Homo sapiens: one gene and its partners. The protein of the gene in region 1 purifies or fractionates together with the protein of each later gene. This does not show direct contact. Each region holds a gene or a part of one and is shown in the gene's direction. Other genes may lie near its edges.

Region 1 (3,500 bases):
TTGTTAGAGACACAATACATTTCGTGTGCTTTAGTTGAGATGACTGCAATATGGAGCAGACCTATCCAAGACTCAGGGGTGAGGCTGAGATGTACTACTAGGAAAGCAGAGAAGTGTCTGGTTTACTGCTATATTCCCATTGCCTTACACAGTGCCTGGCTAGTGAATACTCAATATATATTTGTGGAATGGAATGAATAAGTAAAAGGTCTCACTCACTGAGTATCTATCTTTTAAAACTCACTCACAGGAATAAATGAACAGAAAGAGGTAAAGTGGAGGGTGATTTCTCATTCTTTTTCTCTTGAGCTCCACTCCAAAGTGACTTGTCTCAACCCAAACCACTATTCAGAGGAGAGGAGACACAGTCTGTAGATTCAGTACTCTGTGTGCTATTCTCAACCAGGTCTGCCTGGATTCTTAATTGCTTGCAGGTCAACGTTTCCGCAGCAGTCAATCTCTTCATTGAAAGTGGAAGTCAGGGCCGGGCGCGGTGGCTCACGCCTGTAATCCCAGCACTTTGGGAGGCCAAGGCGGGCGGATCACCAGGGCAAGAGATCGAGACCATCCTGGCTAACACGGTGAAACCCCGTCTCTACTAAAAATACAAAAAATTAGCCGGGCAGGGTGGTGGGCGCCTGTAGTCCCAGCTACTCGGGAGGCTGAGGCAGGAGAATGGCGTGAACCAGGGAGGCAGAGCTTGCAGTGAGCTGAGATCGTGCCACTGCACTCCAGCCTGGGAAACAGAGCGAAACTCCGTCTCAAAAAAAAAAAAAAAAAGTGGAAGTCAGTATTTTTACTAATAGTTACTAATAGTAATGAAGCCTGTTTTGTTACTAGTTGTAATGTTACTAATAATTAGTAATATTATTAGTAAAGTAGAAGTCTGTTTCATCAACTTCAGTTATTCAGTTATTCCTCCAACTCCAAACTTTGTCCGTGTTCTTTGGGAAATTCCTAGCTCTTTTTCTATCTTGATCTGTGGGCAAAACTGTCTACAGAAGGGTTAGACTTCAGAGCAACACTAATATAAGAGCATCCAATATAACCCAACTGGGTTTTCTTTGTACAGAACCCTCTAAATTAGGACCAGACTTCCAGTATAACAAATTGCTCTTTGAAAGACATGGCTAGGCATGACTAAATTATTTATTCTTATTAGAATAATAAATAGCATAAATTGTGCTGGAAGATGTAGCAAGAATGAGATTCCTGGGTGCTGAGGGGGCACTGGGGAGCTTTAGTGGGTTGCCTCAAGCAAGAATGAGATTCCTGGGTGCTGAGGGGTCACTGGGGAGCTTTAGTGGGTTGCCTGAAGACCCACCCACCTCACCACCACTTTGGCTTTAGTCATAGCGTTTATCCTTTCAACTGCTTTACATTTGGGGATCTCATGTTTAGATAATTTGGGAAAAAACGGATGCAAATAAACATTGAAAACTACTATCATAGAGGGAAGACCATAGATTTTGCTCATAAAGAGACCTCTTCAATATTCCACTTTCTAGTTATAACTTGATAATTACTTTTTAAAAACCAGCTTAGAGGCTGTGTTTCCTCATTTGTAAAACGGTGGTGTCTATCACATCAGGTTGGTGTGAGAAGGGGGCAAAGACTCCTCCACACAAGATATAAGCCATCCCTTTCCTCTCTTACGTTTATGGCTGAAATAGCTAATTTTTCCTGAGAATGGAAGTAGCCCGAGAATCTTTCCAGCACTATTCTCCAAGACAACAGAAATAGCACATGAATTGAAACACATTTACTCTCCCTTTCTTACAGTGGCAAAACCTTAAACCAGAAGGCGAAGTATGGAACAAGTGTTTAAATTGAATGACTCTTAGAAGTGTAGAAAATGGTTGTGTCATGTGACCACAAGCAGTTTAGCTTAAGGTAGCAGTTAATAAAAATCATTTCAATAGGAATTTATTAATAAAATAATGGCTAATAATAACTAACTGTATTGAGTGCCTACTATGTGTCAGGCAATGTGCTGTTCACCTCCCATGAATTAGTTCATTGAATCCTCTCAACAATCCTTTGAATGAAAGAGAGATCTAATCACAGAATTGCAGACTCTGAGGATCCTATTTTAGAATGGCCTTGTTGTATTTGTGATTATTTTTAGAAATAAAAATGTAGCTTTGGTATTTATATATTAAGTTTATTTTAGGAAATTTGTTCTGACAAGGGGATAAATTATGAAGAAACAGTAGACTCTTGGTATTAGTGAATTTAACATTTGATATTTTAGCCTTTGAAAGTAATATTTGTAAGTGATGTTGTAGGCCCATTATGTAAAATAATTTTTAATTGTGTTGAGTTACTATTTTGAATTTTGTGTGCTCAGAGCCTGGTGTCTGAAGTGCCACACATAGACAAGGAGCTCAGAAAGCTGCATAGCACTAACATTTCATTCCAGCTTTGTTGTTCTTTGCTTGTAGTCACAAATATATTTCATGAGAAAACCATATGGCTATTCAAGAATATGGTCATTCACAAGTGTCTTGGGTCATAGCAGGAGTTGATATTCACCTAGTGTGCACTGGTACAGCAGTTGTGGTTATTGAAAATATTGAAATATGTTTGTACTCATTAAGATATTGAAATAATTGGTCCAGGTATGGTGGCTTATGCCTGTAATCCCAGCACTTTGGGAGGCCGAGGTGGGTGGATCACTTGAGTTAGGAGTTTGTGACCAGCCTGACCAACATGGTGAAACCCCATCTCTACTAAAAATACAAAAATTAGCCAGGCGTGGTGACATGCACCTGTAATCCCAGCTTCTTGGGAGGCTGAGGCAGGAGAATCACTTGAACCTGGGAGGAGGAGGTTGCAGTGAGCTGCTGAGGTCGCACCACTGCACTCCAGCCTGGGTAACAGAGTGAGACTCCGTCTCAAAAAAAAAAAAAGAGATGTTGAAATAATTTATACGGTTGGTAAATAGCCATTGCCCAAGATGGATTAATATCTCTTTTCTTCTATGTCAACTCTAACCTATAAATTTTGCCAGATACAATGCAGGATGCCCACTTACATTTAAATATCAGATAAATTATAAATAATTTTCTAGCTTAAGTATGTCTCATACAATATTTAGTACATACTTAAACAAAAATTATTTGTGGTCTATCTGAAATTCAAATTTAACTGAGCGTCCTGTATTTTTATTTGCAAAATCTGACAACTCTACTTTACTAGGAACTCAGATCTATTTACAATCTAGCAGTAATGAGTAAAGGGCTGGACTCAGGGTCCCTGCAGGTCCTTACTGTAGGACCTTGGCCAGCCCAGCATTTATTCTGACTTGATGCACTTGTTGTACAAGTCATTAAATATTTTTAGCATATTTAATGTCATAGCAATAGTGAATGACAAGGATCTATCTACATTATATTCTTTCTAGTATTTGATAAGAACTCCACTACTTAGGAATTTTCTCATATTTAGCTTTTAAAGTACACTATTTTTCCATCATTGGGTTTGTTTTTACTCAAAGT
Region 2 (3,500 bases), on another chromosome or scaffold:
CTACTTTTTAATGGTTTGCTGCTGGATTTCATACTATTGTATCTTTTTTGAATTTTTCCTTGTTTTTTGAACAGTATTTTAAATCTTTTACTTCTGTTTTAGATTATGATATTAAGTGTATATTTGTTAAAATTAAAAATCGGTTTGTGATTTGAGTTTTCTGTTAGCTAATTTTATTCAGTGAATTTTTTGTGATTAAGTAATATACTAGTAAATAGTATAGTCAAAGACCGGATAAATTTATATCATTGGAAGTACATTCCATTTGTTAGCATTTTTCATAATCCCATCCCCCCTTTTTAATTTTGCAAACCATGTCTAGTATGAGATTGTTTATCAGTAAACATTCCAAAGTCACCTTTTAACTTAGAAGTATTATATATGAAAACAAATCATGACACATTTTTAAAATTTATAGCAGAAATCTTGAGTCAGACGGTATACATATATAAAATAAAGTTTATTTTTGTTTAACTGACATGAAATCCTAGGATTACTAATCTTAATGAAACATAAAAAAGACGAAATGAATTTACTTTTTTCTTACTTTATAGTAGTCTGAACTTTTGGAATACAAAATGCTTATGGTTTCATGTAATTTTAATCTAGTAGCTAAAGATTTTCATAATTTAGGGAAGTAAGTTGCTAGTAACTAGTCTTAGAGTAACAGATTATCTTTCCTAACAAGAAGAAACAATCAGTAGCAGTGATTTCATAAAGTAATAGATTGTATAAGTGGTGGTGTTCTGTTACACTTAAAACAACTAACTACATGTCATCTTAGAACAGGCTGCTTCATAGTTTATAGTGGAACAGTTTCCATATTCTAGAAAATTAGAAAAGCTTTTGATAAAAGAGAACTAGAAAATTTGTCAGTAGGCTATATTAAAAGACATCCTTCTTGGACTCTTACTGCAATAATTGCTTTGGCTTTTGAATATACTGCATTCAGAAGCTAAATCTTCCCTGTAAGTTAACTTTGTTAATTAACAAAAGTTGTAAATAGATCTATTTAGCAGCCAAATAGAAACTTGGGCAAATCTTAGGAAAGTATTGCAAATCTGCAGGGGTATCTTTTCTCGGTTTCCCATCATCTGCTTCCATTCCTTCCTTTCCTCTCTCCTTTTCCTTCTCCCTTCTGTCTGTCTGCCTATCTTGAGTTAAATTTGTTAAGCATATTTTTTTTTTCAGTGGTTGAGGAGAGGATTAGATCACCTTTTCTTTTGGTTAACAGGAGAAATGGTAGAACAAGTACTTTTGATACTCCAAAATCAATGTATTCAAATATAACCACCTTATGGAACGTTTGGTGCTTTTCCAAACACTCTAATATTCATTATGTCATTTGATTTTCGCACCAACCTATCTAAGTAGTTTGGGCAGATGGTATTATTTTCATTTCACAAGTGAGGAAGCTGAAACAGAAGGGTAAAGTAACATGCCCCAGGTTGTCTAGTCATCCACCTGGTTCCTAGTCCTATTGACTACTCCCTAACACCTGCTTCCTGCTCACGCTATTTCAAAAAGGTTGTTAGTACATAAAACTTTCCCAATTTTATAATGCGTTTCTTTAACATCATTATTTCATGTTGTCTTCTAACTTTGGTGAAATAGTCTTTCTTAATTTAAAGATAACGTAATTTTTTGCAGGTGCCATTGTTATAGAACGACCAAATGTGAAATGGAGTGACGTTGCTGGACTTGAAGGAGCCAAAGAAGCACTGAAAGAGGCTGTGATACTGCCTATTAAATTTCCTCATCTTTTTACAGGTGACATAACTTTTAAATAATTTTATTTCATGAGTTTGTAAAAGTTCATTGATGACTGAGGTGAAGCATTGTCATTCTTGTCACTAATGAATTATCTTAAATAAATTGTGACTGTTAAAAGGTGGTGATATATCTTTATACAAGATGTTTTATTTCTTATACATATCCATATTTGCAGTGTATATATATTGCAAAACAACCTAAATGTCAACCAGTAGGGTAATTCACCAACATGCAGTGGAATACTATGCACTCAGTAAAATAGAGTGTACATCTACATTAATAAATTGAAATCTGCATTGTATTTTATTGAAGAATGTCCACATCTATTGCAAAGATCAAAAAGCAGTTATAAACTGAATAGTATGATTCCATGTTTGCTAAATGTGTATGCTGAGAAGTAAGTATAGTTAGATTCACATAGAAATATTAATATATGCCTAGGGGATAAGATTATAGGAGATTTTTACTTTTGACTTTCATCTGAATTTTTGCAATGGTTATGATTTTTAAAGAGTATTTCTTAAAAAGAGGAGTAAGAATCACTTAACAGTTTCAGAGGAAGTGCATAACCTCTAGTAGCAAAAGGACATTTCATTATCACTGTGAAGAGAATATTGCTGACCTACCATCTGGGGAAACTTACAAGTTCTAGTTCCAGCAGTAAGTGATATGTCTGTGCTAAACCATTCCTTTATATTATCCTTCTTGTGACTGATAGCCTTGACTGTAATATGGCCACACCCACAGTCTGACAGTCAGAGGTTTTTCCTTTTGCAAACATGTTGGTTTATGTCAACAGCAAATCTGCAATGTTGGCCTCAGACTGAAGAGTCCAGACAGTCGTATCGTATAGAGCAGTGATGAAGAGCAAAAAGCCTGTAGGCCACGCACTGTCCGCCTAGCTTCAAGGTGCAGTTTACTACCCAACTTCAGGAGTATGAAACTTAACAGCATAAAAGTTGACATCATAATCCTATAAAAGCACAAAAATATGGTTGAACTCATTTTATGGTATATTACTTATACCACTTTTTCTCAAACATGAGTCATTGATGTATCATCTTCATGAATTTTTCCATGTATGTGTACCATTACTAATTTTTAATATTTTTCTTTGCTTATTTTTTAGAACAACATTTTTACTAGAGTATAGCATAAATATACAGAGACATACAGGAGCCCCTGGGTGTTGGGCTTCCTTAATTGTCACAAAGCAAGCATGCCAGTGTCATCAACCAGATCCAGAAATAACAGCATTGCCAGGGACCTGGCAGGAGCCTTCTGCCTCATTCCTCCCGAGAGGTCATCTCTCTCTCTCGACTTCTAACGCCAGAGATTATTTTGCCTGTATTTGAACTTTAAATCATCTCACATATTTTTACTTAGTAACGTTATTGAAAAGACTGCTTTGTGCCTTTATAAGTGGAAAAAAAAGTGTTTTTCCAATACACATTAAAAAATTATTTAAAGTATATACCACCTAAAAGTACTTCATGTTATACCAGTGGTATATGTACCATACTCAGACACTGACTTGTAAATGTATACATGTAAAATAGGAAAATGAAATTCAAGTAACAGTTGCTTTCATAACAGTTAAGTGAAACAGTGTTATTCATCTGCATATCATTCTTTTGCAGATACTGTGTACACATCCATAGTTTGCACCTAGCAGTTTTTTTTGTTTTGTTTTGTTTTGTTTCTTTTTTTGAGACAGAGTTTCACTC
Region 3 (3,500 bases), on another chromosome or scaffold:
CCCTAACCTAAGGTACAAACACTTATCCTCACTCTTTCTCTTTGCCAGTTTTAAACTTCACACAAATATATTTTAAAGCAGTATACATTTATGTTATAAGTGGGCTATACCAGGCCTTGTGCAATGCCCTGGGAATCCAAAGGATTGGATTACAATATACGATACAAAGAACTTATACGAAGGACTGGCTAGAAACTGGATCATTTACATTGCTGGAGCATGGGGGTGGGTACATGCAATGGTACAGCACTCTGGAAAAGAGTTTAGTAGTTTCTTACAAAACCAAATATACTACTACCATATGAGTCAGCAATTGCATTCATAGGTATTTATTCCAGAAAAATGAAGTTTTGTATTCACATGAAAACCTGTACCTGAATGTCCACAGCAGTTTTATTTGAATAAACAAACACTAGAATCAGCCCAGATGCTTTTCAACAGGTGACTGGTTAAACAAGTTGTACATCTGTACCAACTAATACTACTCAGCAATAAAAAGGAACAAACTATTGATACATACAACAACTTGGATGAAGCTCCAGGGAATCATGCTGAGTGAAAAACCCTAAGAGGCTTTATACTGTATGATCCCATTTATATAAAATTTTTGAAATGACAAAATTTTAGATTTGGCATTGCCGTTGGTTACAGATAGGGTGAAGAGGGGATGATGTGGGCAGGAGAAGAGTGTATTATAAAAGGGCAACTTGAAGGATGTTTTTGGTGGAACTATACAGCATCTTGATTGTGATAGCAGATGTATGAATTTACACATGTGATAAAATTTTATAGAACTAAATGCACACACACACGAGTACAAGTAAAACTGAGAAAATACGAATAAAATAGGTGGATTATATCAATGCCAATATCCTGGTTGTGGTGTTCAGTGCTATACTGTACTATACATTAATATGTTAAGCTATACTGTAATTTTACAAAGTTGCCACTACTGGGGGAAATTGGGTCTATTGATCTGTGTCTATCCTTCAATAGTACCAATCTGTTTTAATCACGTTAGCTATGTAGTAAACCTTAGTATCAGGTAGAGTGATTCCCCCCACTTTATGCTTGTTTGTCAAGATTATTTTAGCTATTCCAGGGCCTGCGCCTCACTATATAAATTTTGCAATAAGCCTGTATATGTCTATAATAAACCTTACTGTGATTTTGGTAAGAATAACATTAGGCCTATAGATCAATTTGTGAAGGATTGACATCATTATTATGTGGAGTCTTAAAATCCATGAACACTAAGCGTTTACATTTACTTAGGTCTTCCTTGATATTTTGAATGCCATTTTGTAATTTTCAGCATACAGATCCTGTACATGTTTTTAAACTATATGCCTGAGTATTTCAGTTTCTTTGGAGTGATTGTCAATAGCATTGCGCCTTTAATTTCAGTTTCAGCATGTTCATTGTTTCTATATAGAAATGTGACTGATTTTTTGTATTACTGATGAATCTTGTATCCTGCTAATTTGCTCAATGTACTTTTTATTTCTAGGAGAGTTTTCTTTTTTTTTTTTGGATAGGTCTCTTAGAGTTCACTATGTAAACAATATTGTTGTCTCTAAATAGAGACCTTTTTATTTCTTCATATTCAATTTGTATGCCTTTTTTTTCTTTTTCTTACTTTATTGCAGTGGTTAGAACTTGCTGTACTATGTTGAATAAGAGTGGTGTGAGTGCACACCCATTTTCTGGATTTTATGGGAAAAACATTTAGTCTTTTACTGTTCAGCATTGCTAGCTCTGTGTTTTTTGTTGACTCTAATTATCGTTGGAAGGTGTTCCTCTCTATTCCTAATTTGACTTATTTTATTTTATCATGAATGGCTGTTGGATTAACCTAGTTTTAAATCTCTCTTTTTATCTATAAAATCATTACATCCACAAAATACTTATAGAAATTCATAGGATGTACACAAGTCTAACATAATATAAAATAACACGGCACAGCATAGTATAACAGAACATAAAAGACACCGGTAAAATCAGTGTAGGGAAACAACAAATGGAAATCATAAGCAGATTCGTAGGGGAAAACTAAACTGATTCTTAAGCAGACTTTATACACAAAGTTCATAAGTTTCTAAATACTTTCTGGAATTCCATCATGCTACAACTGGATTTGATTCTAATTTTCGCATCCAAAGGCTGACATTGGCTTCATCAAGACCGTCAACCTCATTCAGGCATCCTGTTTTATTCATACAGATATTCCCTGGCCAACCACATTACATAAGCATCAGCAAATGATAGGATAATTTAATTAACTTACTTTCAGTTCATTCATTAACTTCATGCCTGTCCATTTACATCTACCTAAAGAGATTCAGGTTTCAACCTGTAGTCAGGTAAGGACGTTTATGTCAAATACATCATCTTTAACACCTTTGATGTTAACCTTGATTCCAAGTTATCTCTTAAAGCATCTCTCTTAAGGCATCATAAAAATCTACATCTACATCTTTATGGTATTCTCAGTTAGGGTTCGGATCCCAAATCGGCAGAAGAATGACACCAGAGTCCTTTCAGATTGCAAAATTGCCGGTGTGTCAAATACTTAACTTTGACCACAGCGAGTTCACAAAATTGTTATCACGTCAAGTAATCTTCTAGCTACTGAGTTGTTTTTTTTTGTTGTTGTTGTTGTTTCCCCTCAGAAGATACTTGGTATATGAGTCTCATTTGAGAGTAAGAGGGAAATTGTAAGGAAATCTGATTCTTTCTTTAATACAACTGACTGATTTGCCTTCTTCAACTTTGGTGAATACTGTCAGTTAGGGTTGTTCATGTGAACTATTAAATTATTACAGCTTCTAAGCTTTTATGCATCAGTTATCTATGGAAGAAATTAACATACCTTGTCACTATAAAATTGTACCGCTAATGAGAGCCTGAGTACAAAAAAATACCCACAAGTGTACTGGAGTTTTTAAGAACCTGTGCTTCAGAGTCACACAAACCTACATCTGGTCTTTTTCTCCCAAAAGTTGCTTTATGACCTCAGAAAAGTTACCCAGCCTCTCTAAGCCTCCATTTTCTCTGTTCCAATCTAGTAGAAAATAGGTTCTGCTTTATGAGGTTGCTTGAAGATTAAATGAGATCATCCATGTAAAACATTGGCATAGTGTCTGGCCCATAGGGGTAGTATAAATGTATAATGTTGGCTATTATTATTTCTAGAGTCATTTAAGATTTTTATTACAGCTTGGATGTAGTAAAGAGTTTGAAGTGTTTTCCATAAAATGTGAGTGCCCCTCCTGACTGTCCGTACTGTATCCTTTATGTACACTACAGACACTGGTTCTTAGGAATTGTTTTGACCTTAGTGAAGTTACCTGGATGTGATGTGTATTACAATTGTGAAAATTAAATGTATGTTGTATGTAAAATACCTGGAACAATACCAAGTACATTAACACTTAATAAATGTTAGCGTGCTGCTTCCTTTGCTCTTCCTTTCCTCCAGAGATCATTATTTCATTCAA
Region 4 (3,642 bases), on another chromosome or scaffold:
TTTAGCTATTCTCTTGCTTTGGGACTTTCTTCTTCCAGATAACTGCTTGGCTAACTTCTTTGTCTCCAAGTCTTTGTTCAAATCTAACCTTAATGAGGACTATGCTGACCACCCTATTTAAAACTGCAACCTACATCCCTTCCACACAAACATACTCTGATTCCCCTTACCTCTGCTTTTTCTTTTGTTTTCATAGAACGTACCACCTTCTAACATACTCCATAACTTGCTGATTTATTCTGTTTATTGCTTATTGTCTGCCTTCCTGTGGTGGTTTTAAAATACGCCCACAAATTCTTTGCTACTCCTTCCTTCAAGAGGTGGAATTTAATCCTTTCCCCTTCGGTGTGGCCTGAACTTAATGACTTGTTTCTTGTTTTTTGTTGTTGTTGTTGTTTTGGTTTTTGTTTTTGTTTTTGTTTTTGAGACTCAATTCTGTCTCGCAGGCTGGAGTGCTGTGGCACGATCTCAGTTCACTGCAACTTCCGCCTCCCGGGTTGAAGTGATTCTCCTGCATCAGCCTCCCCAGTACCTGAGATTACGGGCGCATGCCACCACACCCGGCTAATTTTTTGTATTTTAAGTAGAGACAAGGTTTCACCATGTTGACTAGGCTGGTCTCGAACACCTGACCTCAAGTGATCCACCCGCCTCGCCCTCCCAAAGTGCTGGGATTACAGGCATGAGCCACCACACCTGGCCTAATGACTTGTTTCTAATGAATAGACTACGGTAGAAGCGACAAGGTGTGACTTCCAAGACTAGGTCATAAAAAACATTGCAAGAGGAGAAAAAAGCATTGTGTTTTCCTTGTTGTCCTCTCTCCTGAATCACGCAATCTGGGGGAAGCCACCTACCAAGTATGAAGACATACAAGCAGCCTTATGGAGAGGTTCATATGGTGAGGAACTGAGGCCTCATGTCAAAAACCAGCAAAGACCTAAGGCCTCCCGCCAATAGCCAGGTAAGTGAACCACCTTGGAAACTGCTCCTTCAGACCTAAGTTAAGCCTTTAAACTACTACATCCCCAGACACCATATTGACTACAACTTCATGAGACACCCTGAGCCAGAACTACCCATCTAAGCTGCTCCCAAATTATTGAGTCATAGGAAATGTGAGATAATAAATGTTTGTTGCTTTAAGCCACTAAATTTTGGGGTTATTTGTTACACTGCAATAATTAAGTAATACACTTCCCACTAGAATAAAAACTCCATGAAGATAGGACTCTGTTTTTTCACTGATATTAGGCTGAACCACATGAAATCATCATAGTCAAACACCGGCAATTTCATATAAATCAATCTAATATATCCCATGGAAACAGTGGTTCCTCTGGTGAGGGGAAATGAGTGGTTAGGGAATAAGGGTGGGAAAAAGAATTTTCAGCGTATAACCTTTTGTACCTTTTACTTCAAATGGTATAAAAAGTATTGCAGCCCACCGCCATGGCCGCCTACAAACTGGTGCTGATCCGGCACGGCGAGAGCACATGGAACCTGGAGAACCGCTTCAGCTGCTGGTACGACGCCGATCTGAGCCCGGCGGGCCACGAGGAGGCGAAGCGCGGCGGGCAGGCGCTACGAGATGCTGGCTATGAGTTTGACATCTGCCTCACCTCAGTGCAGAAGAGAGTGATCCGGACCCTCTGGACAGTGCTAGATGCCATTGATCAGATGTGGCTGCCAGTGGTGAGGACTTGGCGCCTCAATGAGCGGCACTATGGGGGTCTAACCGGTCTCAATAAAGCAGAAACTGCTGCAAAGCATGGTGAGGCCCAGGTGAAGATCTGGAGGCGCTCCTATGATGTCCCACCACCTCCGATGGAGCCCGACCATCCTTTCTACAGCAACATCAGTAAGGATCGCAGGTATGCAGACCTCACAGAAGATCAGCTACCCTCCTATGAGAGTCCGAAGGATACTATTGCCAGAGCTCTGCCCTTCTGGAATGAAGAAATAGTTCCCCAGATCAAGGAGGGGAAACGTGTACTGATTGCAGCCCATGGCAACAGCCTCCAGGGCATTGCCAAGCATGTGGAGGGTCTCTCTGAAGAGGCTATCATGGAGCTGAACCTGCCGACTGGTATTCCCATCGTCTATGAATTGGACAAGAACTTGAAGCCTATCAAGCCCATGCAGTTTCTGGGGGATGAAGAGACGGTGTGCAAAGCCATAGAAGCTGTGGCTGCCCAGGGCAAGGCCAAGAAGTGAAGGCCAGCGGGGAGGATACTGTCCCCAGGAGCACCCTCCCTGCTGGTCTTGTCCCTCTGCCCCTCCCACCTGCACATGTCACACTGACCACATCTGTAGACATCTTGAGTTGTAGCTGCAGATGGGGACCAGTGGCTCCCATTTTCATTTTAGCCATTTTGTCGCCTGCACCCACTCCCTTCATACAATCTAGTCAGAATAGCAGTTCTAGAGCACAGGTTCTCAGTCTAAGCTGTGGAAAAGCTCCCCTTATCCAACAGAGTTTAAAAGTAGTGACTTGGGTTTTTGTGAGTGCTTTGTTTACTAAGGACTTTGGGGAGGAACATGCTAAGCCACGACCAATGAGGAGAAGCAACAGAGCCTGTCTGTCCCCATGAGCAGAGTCTGTCCTCTGCTCTTCTGCAGTCAGGCCACTGCCTGGGGGCTCTAGTCATTCCAGTGGAAGATGAATGTAATCTGCATGGTGATGTGACAACTGTTTCCTCCTTGACCCCAGAGGATCTGGCTCTAGGTTGGGATCAATCCTGAATTTCGTTATGTGTTATATTTACTTTTATTAAAAAAGTATAGTATATATTAATAATACAAAACAATAACCCTTCTGGGGTTTCTTGTGGCGGTTGAAATAGTCCCACATGTGGTCATCAGAAAATAAGCCATTCCTCATACCAATATAGGATCAGCTCCTTGACCTCTGAGGGGCAGGAGTGCTTCCTGGTGTGTGTATTAGAATCCCTTCCTGCCTTGTTTCATGGCAGTGAAATGCCTCTTGGTCCTGTCCAAGTGTGTCTTTCACTGATTTCTGAATCATGTTCTAGTTGCTTGACCCTGCCACATGGGCCCAGTGTTCATCTGAGCATAACTGTACTAAATCCTTTTACCAGATCAGTATAATAAAGGAGTGATGTGCAATTAAAAAAAAAAAGTATTACAACATCATTTTAGTTTTGGTGAGCTCAGAGAAACTTAAGCAGAAAATGCTGAACCATGCCCGCTGCTACTAACAAAGCAAGATGATTAATGGACTCTTGTAACTTCTCCAACTAATTTCTGTGGAGCTTTGAACAATTAGACCACCCAGTCTATGGTATTATGTTATGGAAGCCTGAACTAAGACATATGCATTCTTTTTTAAATTGGGATATAATTCACATGCTATAAAATTCAGCCTTTTAACCTACAGAATGGGAGAAAACATTTTGCAATCTACCCATCTGACAAAGGTCTAATATCCAGAATCTACAAGGAACTTAAACAATTTACAAGAAAAAAACAACCCCATCAAAAAGTGGGCAAAGGATATGAATAGACATTTCTCAAAAGAAGACATTTATGCGGCCAACAAACATATGAAAAAAAGCTCAACATCACAGATCATCAGAGAAATGCAAATCAAAACCACAATGAGATACCATCTCACACCAG
Region 5 (3,500 bases), on another chromosome or scaffold:
GCTCATTTTGTTTTTTTATTTTTTTGTAGAGAGGATGGTCTTGCTATATTGCCCAGGCCGGTTTTGAACACCTGGCCTCAAACAGGCTTCCCACCTTGGCCTCCCAAAATACTGGGATTACTGGCATGAGCCACTGCAACTTTGTGTTAAGCAAAACGGAAATGTGCCAAAAGGTTAGAAGTGGTTCCCTCTAGAAGAGGAATTATTAGGCCTTCTTTCCTGAGTACTTCTAATTTCTACATTGTTCATGCTTTGAACATTTTAGTAATATAAATGAGATATACCTACTCCTTTTTTGAACAGTAGATATATATATATAGTATATATATTTATCCTATATATACTATTTATATTATATATACTATTTATACTATATATAGTATGTATATAGTATATATACTGTATATAGTAGATATATACTATGTATATAATATATATGGTATGTATAGTAGTATATATACTATATATAATATATATGGTATGTATATAGTAGTATATATACTATGTATATACTATGTATATATACATATATACTATGTATATACTATGTATATATACTCTATATAGTATATTGAACAGTAGGTATATATATAGTATATATATTTTGAGCGCTTGCTGTGTTTTCAGCTGTTGGGCTAAATCTTTTGAGTACGTTATTTTTCCAATGAAACCCTGTCTGCTAGGCAGAGGAAGGTAATGCTACCTACCTAATTATGAAGATCTTTCAGAATAATCCGTATTAACTGACTTGGTTTAGTCCCTGGTATTTATTAAATCTCAAATGGCAGCTTCCATGATCATCATCATTGTTCATTCTTATCTTGCTTCTGTATATGAGAGAGTTGGACAAAGGAAGGCGGTAATTTGCCTGGTGTCATGTGGCAAATAGGTGTCATAACCTGGATTTCATCCCTGATCTTTCTGACTTCAAAGCTCATTATTATACTCTCCCCAGAGGGGCATGTCAGTGGAGCTTCTGACAACTTGATCTCTTCACCTTATCCCTAAGGGCCCCCCACACCAAGCCACCAAACACAAGCTTGTAAAAACGCGACCAGCCAGGTTTTTGGTTGTTTGTCAGGAGCTTCTTCTGAAGTTCATTACTGTTTGGCAGTTGGAATAATTTGGCAGAGGGTAAAAATAAGAAAATTGTTTGGATGAATGAAGATTTAAGAAACCAAATGACAAAGATATTGAAAATGAAAGTGAAATTGAAAATGAAAATGAAGGCTGGGTGCGGTGGCTCACGCCTATAATCCCAGCACTTTGGAAGGCGGAGGCAGGCAGATCACGAGGTCAAGAGATCGAGACCATCCTGGACAGTATGGTGAAACCCCGTCTCTACTAAAAATACAAAAATCAGCTGGGCATGGTGGCGCGCACCTGTAGTCCCAGCTACTCGGGAGGCTGAGGCAGGAGAGTCGCTTGAACCTGGGAGGGGGAGGTTGCAGTGAGCTGAGATCGTGCTACTGCATTCCAGCCTGGGCAACAGAGCAAGACTCCATCTCAAAAAAAAAAAAAAAAAAGAAGAAAAATGAAATAGAAAATGAAAAATACTTCCATTTTCATTTAATATTGAATTAATACCAAAGAACATTTAAACATATACACATACATATATAGATATAAAATGTAAGGAATATTACAGTGAACACTTATAAATCACCTAGTTTTTAAAACACATTATCCTGTCTCTTTCACCCTCAGAATCATTAACCTGAATTTTTACTTCTTTGCTTTCTGTGTAGTTTTTCCACATATGCTCAGTCCCTAAATAATATTTAGTTTTCTATGAAATGCAATTGTACATTATGTATTTTACTGCAATTGTTTTCAACAAATGTATATGTTCTTGAGGTTATCCAGATGGTGATGGGAGTAACCAATTTCTGCCAAAATATATTTAGAGGTTTGTTCTGGGCCAATATGATAGTGACTGCAGCCTGTGGTTACACGATCTCAAACAACCCTGACAAAGTGCACCCCAGGTGGTCAGGTTACAGCTTGGTTTTATACATTTTAGATACAGGAATTACATGCAAGGTATACATTGATCTCACTCAAAAGGTAGGACATCTTAAAGAGGGGGTTACAAGTCATAGGTGGGTTTTAAGGATTCTTCAGCTGGTAGTTGGTTGATAGAGGTAAGCTATGGTAAGTAGAAAGGAATGCTTGAGTTAAGGGGCTTGTGAAGGCCAAGGTTCTTGTTAAGTTAATTGAAGCCTCCTAGGTAGCAGCCCTCAGAGGGAAGAGATACTAAATGTCACTTTTTAGACTTTAATGTTATCAGGCTCTCAGTTAATCTCTCCTGGATCCAGGAAAGGCCTAGAAAGGAAGGCCTGGTTGCATTAATGGAGATTCTTGACAGATGCATATTTCCCCTAGGAAACATGGCTTTGTGGGGCCATTGAAATCCGTTGGCCATGTGGCAGCCATTTCAAAATGTCAAATATATTTTGGGGTAAAATATTCTGATTTCCTTCTGAGTCTGCTATTTGTCATAAGATGCCATACCAGAGTCAGGTTGGAAAGTAAGTCGTATTATATAGGGTTAATAAAAACCTGTCCAGTGAGATTTCGTAATTAGTAAGGCATGACTCCCCAGGCCTCTTAGTGAAGAACTTGGAGAAGAGAGAAAATATAAAAAAGATCAGCGTTTAGTCTTCACATATTATTGTATGAGCTGTAATTTACTCATTTCGCTGCATTCCACTGTATAACTATACTGTAATTTCTTCATTCTATAGTAACTATATGATAATTTCTGATAGTAGACCTTTGGGTTGTTTCCAGATATTTTATTCCTTTTTTTTTTTTTTTTTTTTATGAGATGGAGTCTCACTCTGTCGCCCAGGCTGGAACGCAGTGGTGCAATCTCGGCTCACTGCAGCCTCTGCCTCCCGCGTTCAAGCGATTCTCCTGCCTCAGCCTTCCAAGTAGCTGGGATTACTGGTGGGCGCCACCATGCCCAGCCAATTTTTATATTTTAGTAGAGATGGGGTTTCACCGTGTTGGCCAGGCTGGTCTTGAACTTCTGACCTCAAGTGATCCGCCCACATTGGCCTCCCAAAGTGCCAAGGGATTACAGGGATGAGCCACTGCGCCCACCTGTTTCTTATCTCTAACAGTGCTATGACAAAGATTGTTCATGTTTCATGGGGCCCATTTGCAAGAGTTTCTAGGATATAATTGCTAGGTCATAAGGCAAGTACCATGCTAAGTTGTACTAGGTAATGCTCTAAATTTAATTTTCCAAAGTGGTTGCGCTGATGTATGCACTTACCATTAGTGTGTAAATGTCCTAATTACACCATATTTTCACCAATCACCAAAATTTGATATAGTCAGGATTTTAAATTTTGGCCATCTTGTCAATATAAAAATGATATACTGTGAGTATATATTTAACTTTAAAAAATGATGTTCTTATGGCCAGGCATGGTGGCTCATGTCTGTAATCCCAGTACTTTGGGCGACCAGGGCAGGCAGATTGCTTGAGC
Region 6 (3,500 bases), on another chromosome or scaffold:
AATCCAGTATTTGCCAGCCAGTGACAGACATAAACTAGGTTCTTTATAAATGTTTCATGAATTGACCTGCATCCCTGCATTGATTCAGGATCTTATTGTCCATTGGGAAGGAAGATTTACTTAGCTAGGAGTAACAATTCCCAAATTTGCCCTAGTTGCAATATTTTTTTACCAAGGGTACATACAAGTCAGGTTCACTTCTGAAAGTAAGGAAACACAGGATAGCATTCACTTGATGATCATAACACAGTCTGGGTATACATATGTGTTTGTGTGTATACATTTAAAAAAAAGGTCGTTTATATTTGGTTTTGGAATCAACTTTTGAATTTGTCTAAACTTGTTAAGAATTTACAAGTTCTATTTAAAGATATCTGGGCCAGAAACCAGAACCACTTGTGTTTAAATACTATTGCTATTCTGTACACAGCTCAAGGTTCTGGTATTTTCTCTTAAGCATTCCTCTTCTCCCCTTCCACCAAAAAAAAAAAAAAAAAAAAAAAAAAGGAATTGTGCCGAATTAGTTGGTTTCTATGGGGATATGGGGATTAAGTTTCTACAAGATTCAAGGCAGAAGAAATATACATTTATATATTAAAAGATAAAAAAATTATTTGCTAACTCTTAGAATTATTTAATGGCCCCAAACTTGGATGAAACATCAATTTCCAGACACTCTTCAAATATCCAAAGTGTATTCAAATATCACAGAGTGTATGTTTTTTCAGTGCTACCATTAGCTTGCTATTGACATTAATTTTCTTTTACTCATTTTTCACTCAAGAAATTTTACTGCAGGATAAAACTCCAGGATAAAACTGTCAAGTGCCGGGCACGGTGGCTCATGCCTGTAATCCCAGCACTTTGGGAGGCCGAGGCGGGCGGATCACCTGAGGTCGGGAGTTTGAGACCAGCCTGACTAACATGGAGAAACCCTGTCTCTGCTAAAAATACAAAATTAGCTGGGCATGGCGGCACATACGTGTAATCCCAACTACTAGGGAGGCTGAGGCAGGAGAATCGCTTGAACCTGGGAGGCGGAGGTTGCCGTGAGCCGAGATTGCGCCATTGCACTCCAGTCTGGGCAATAAGAGCAAAACTCAGTCTCAAAAAACAAACAAAAAAACTGTCAAGTAAGGAAGTTGATAAATAAGAAAAACTAGTTATGTAAAATAGCATTAAGTTATTAATTTACTTTAAGGAGATGTTATTCACTAATTATTTTTAAACAAAAACGAACTTCAGTTGGAAACTAGAAATTACTAAAAACTTTGTTCAACATATTAGTAAATAATGCCAGCTGTACATGAACTGACAACTATCTGATTTATATGTTGCTATTCTTTCTTTATTTTAGGTGTGGAAATTAAAAGAACACACATATTTTGACTGGGGCTTTGATCAACCAAATGCTAAAAAGGTATATTTGTAATATTTATAAACTATCTAAATGTTGTTATTAGAGAATTTAAACCATATTCCTTTCTTTAACCAGGGATCACTTAAGCCAATCAGATAACAAGGCACAACTCTATCCTTAAGATCACAAAAGATGGCAGTGTGACAATCATTTCTGTTACTAAATATTTACCCACTCTTCTGTGCTTTCCTGAGAGCCTCATTCATGTCTGATCAACTTATATACATTAACTCATGTAGATATAACTTTAAGTCATTATGTTTGTTTGGAAAGAAGCTTTTCCTACTTATTTTGTCTAGAGATGCCTACTTAGTTGTTTACTTTTTCCTGATGGGAATAATTCTGCTGTGATATTTGCAAAAATGTTATAATGGTTCAATCTGTAATCTTACGTTTTGTTTGCTTGATTATGCATCATGAGTTCATTTTGATCAATCTTGAACCTATATTAGTCACCGTACTTTGAGATGATAGGATAACATTTTTCTTTCCTTTTTTTTTTTTTTTTTTTTTTTTTGAGACGGAGTCTTGCTCTGTTTCCAGGCTGGAGTGCAATGGTGCGATCTCGGCTCACTGCAACCTCCGCCTCCCGGGTTCAAGTGATTCTCCTGTCTCCTGGGTTCAAGTGATTCTCCTGCCTCAGCCTCCTGAGTAGCTGGGACTACAGGCGTCCACAACCACGCCCAGCTAATCTTTGTATTACTTTATTGTATAAAATGGGAAGGCAAAAGCTAGCAAATTTCATGTGGAAGCCCAAAAGATACATTCTGAATGCATCTCACACTCCTAAGATGCCCTCCTGCAAATCATTTATACATAGGAAGTGTTTACATTTGGTGTAGTTACGGAGACCAGTAATTGGAGAGTTCCCAGAAAATCCAGAGGAAGTCAAGATGCCCAAAAGTCAGGAGGCAGCAGGCTGAAGCTGTTTGGAAAGATCTATGAGATAGTCTCTCTTACATACAGAGCAGTAAACAAATATCTCATTGCTGTTGAAGACTTTGTAATACAAGGTGATTTTATAGGTGTTCTAGTCCAGGATTTTCCATTTTTTATTGGGTAAAAGTAGTGGAGAGGAAGACCTCTTTTGTCAGTGAACAAATCAAGGAGCCAACTATGAAAATAAGGGGCAGATAATAGCATAAAAAGACAGACCCTTAATTGATACAAAGCTTAATCAATTTTATATTAATACTTAACTCACTGTTCTCAAATTTATCTAATAAATATTAGATAGAATAAAATCATTGAATACATAAAACAAAGTATACTTTTATATTTGTTTTTCTACTTGTCCATTCTAGCCAAAGGGAAATTCTTAGTTCTTACAATGTGCTATTTTGTTTTGTATTCTGAACAAATTTTCATTTAAACATTGAGAAAGTGAAAATGTATGCAGGAAGAAGCTCACGATTTCCATTGTTGTTAATACCAATAATTGTATCACTAGTCAAAGTCACAATCACTTGTGTGAATTTTTTGAACCTGAAATGCAACAGGAATTTAAACTAGATTAAGCTGGAATGAATAGTAGGTTCTTGATTTGGGTACCTGACTTGTAGCTAATTCAACCATAATTTGAATCTAGATTAATAAGGCATTAAGATTAAAATATGAGTTATATTCCATGTCATCACAGTTTATGTTTATCATAATTGAAATGTTCCCTTTTTTAATTACTTGTGATATTACATACATTGAACTTTTTGAAGTTTCACCAACAACAAAAAATTGACATTCAGGTACAGTAGTGATCTCTCTTGATATGGGGGATACATTTCTGTTTATAAAATGGTTATTGAGATAACTTCAAATTAAAAGCATATTTGATAGATACGCTACTGCTCATGTGTGGGAGCCTGGAATTTGGAAGTCATTCTATGCATTGTAAATGGAGTTGTAAATGTTAAGCTGTGTGTATGCACATGCATCCAGACATCCACACAAATATATGGGCAACTGTAACCCAAGTTGGGTGACGTATAATGAAGCAAACATGAACTCTGAGTAATCAGAAAAATCTTAAAAGAGATGGGAAGAAATCCATTTTTTTTTAGTTAGTGATAATAAATTTTAAAAC

Evidence for each region.
Region 2: the proteins of GRXCR1 (region 1) and VPS4B purify together in Homo sapiens (affinity purification with mass spectrometry; one large-scale study listed by BioGRID and IntAct). This does not show direct contact.
Region 3: the proteins of GRXCR1 (region 1) and SCIN purify together in Homo sapiens (affinity purification with mass spectrometry; one large-scale study listed by BioGRID and IntAct). This does not show direct contact.
Region 4: the proteins of GRXCR1 (region 1) and PGAM4 purify together in Homo sapiens (affinity purification with mass spectrometry; one large-scale study listed by BioGRID and IntAct). This does not show direct contact.
Region 5: the proteins of GRXCR1 (region 1) and CARNMT1 purify together in Homo sapiens (affinity purification with mass spectrometry; one large-scale study listed by BioGRID and IntAct). This does not show direct contact.
Region 6: the proteins of GRXCR1 (region 1) and KLHL24 purify together in Homo sapiens (affinity purification with mass spectrometry; one large-scale study listed by BioGRID and IntAct). This does not show direct contact.

Annotation. Positions count from the first base shown.
Region 1 is NC_000004.12:43,025,213-43,028,712, forward strand, and holds part of GRXCR1 (glutaredoxin domain-containing cysteine-rich protein 1), read left to right. Parts: intron 1-3,500. UniProt on the Homo sapiens protein: May play a role in actin filament architecture in developing stereocilia of sensory cells.
Region 2 is NC_000018.10:63,401,977-63,405,476, reverse strand, and holds part of VPS4B (vacuolar protein sorting-associated protein 4B), read left to right. Parts: intron 1-441; exon of another isoform or gene 442-1,650; coding exon 1,651-1,770; exon of another isoform or gene 1,771-2,746; intron 2,747-3,500.
Region 3 is NC_000007.14:12,573,720-12,577,219, forward strand, and holds part of SCIN (scinderin), read left to right. Parts: intron 1-3,500. UniProt on the Homo sapiens protein: Ca(2+)-dependent actin filament-severing protein that has a regulatory function in exocytosis by affecting the organization of the microfilament network underneath the plasma membrane.
Region 4 is NC_000023.11:77,967,449-77,971,090, reverse strand, and holds PGAM4 (phosphoglycerate mutase 4), read left to right. Parts: upstream 1-1,452; coding exon 1,453-2,217; 3' UTR 2,218-3,142; downstream 3,143-3,642.
Region 5 is NC_000009.12:75,018,294-75,021,793, reverse strand, and holds part of CARNMT1 (carnosine N-methyltransferase), read left to right. Parts: intron 1-3,500.
Region 6 is NC_000003.12:183,642,123-183,645,622, forward strand, and holds part of KLHL24 (kelch-like protein 24), read left to right. Parts: intron 1-784; exon of another isoform or gene 785-1,133; intron 1,134-1,357; 5' UTR 1,358-1,420; intron 1,421-1,963; exon of another isoform or gene 1,964-3,500. UniProt on the Homo sapiens protein: Necessary to maintain the balance between intermediate filament stability and degradation, a process that is essential for skin integrity.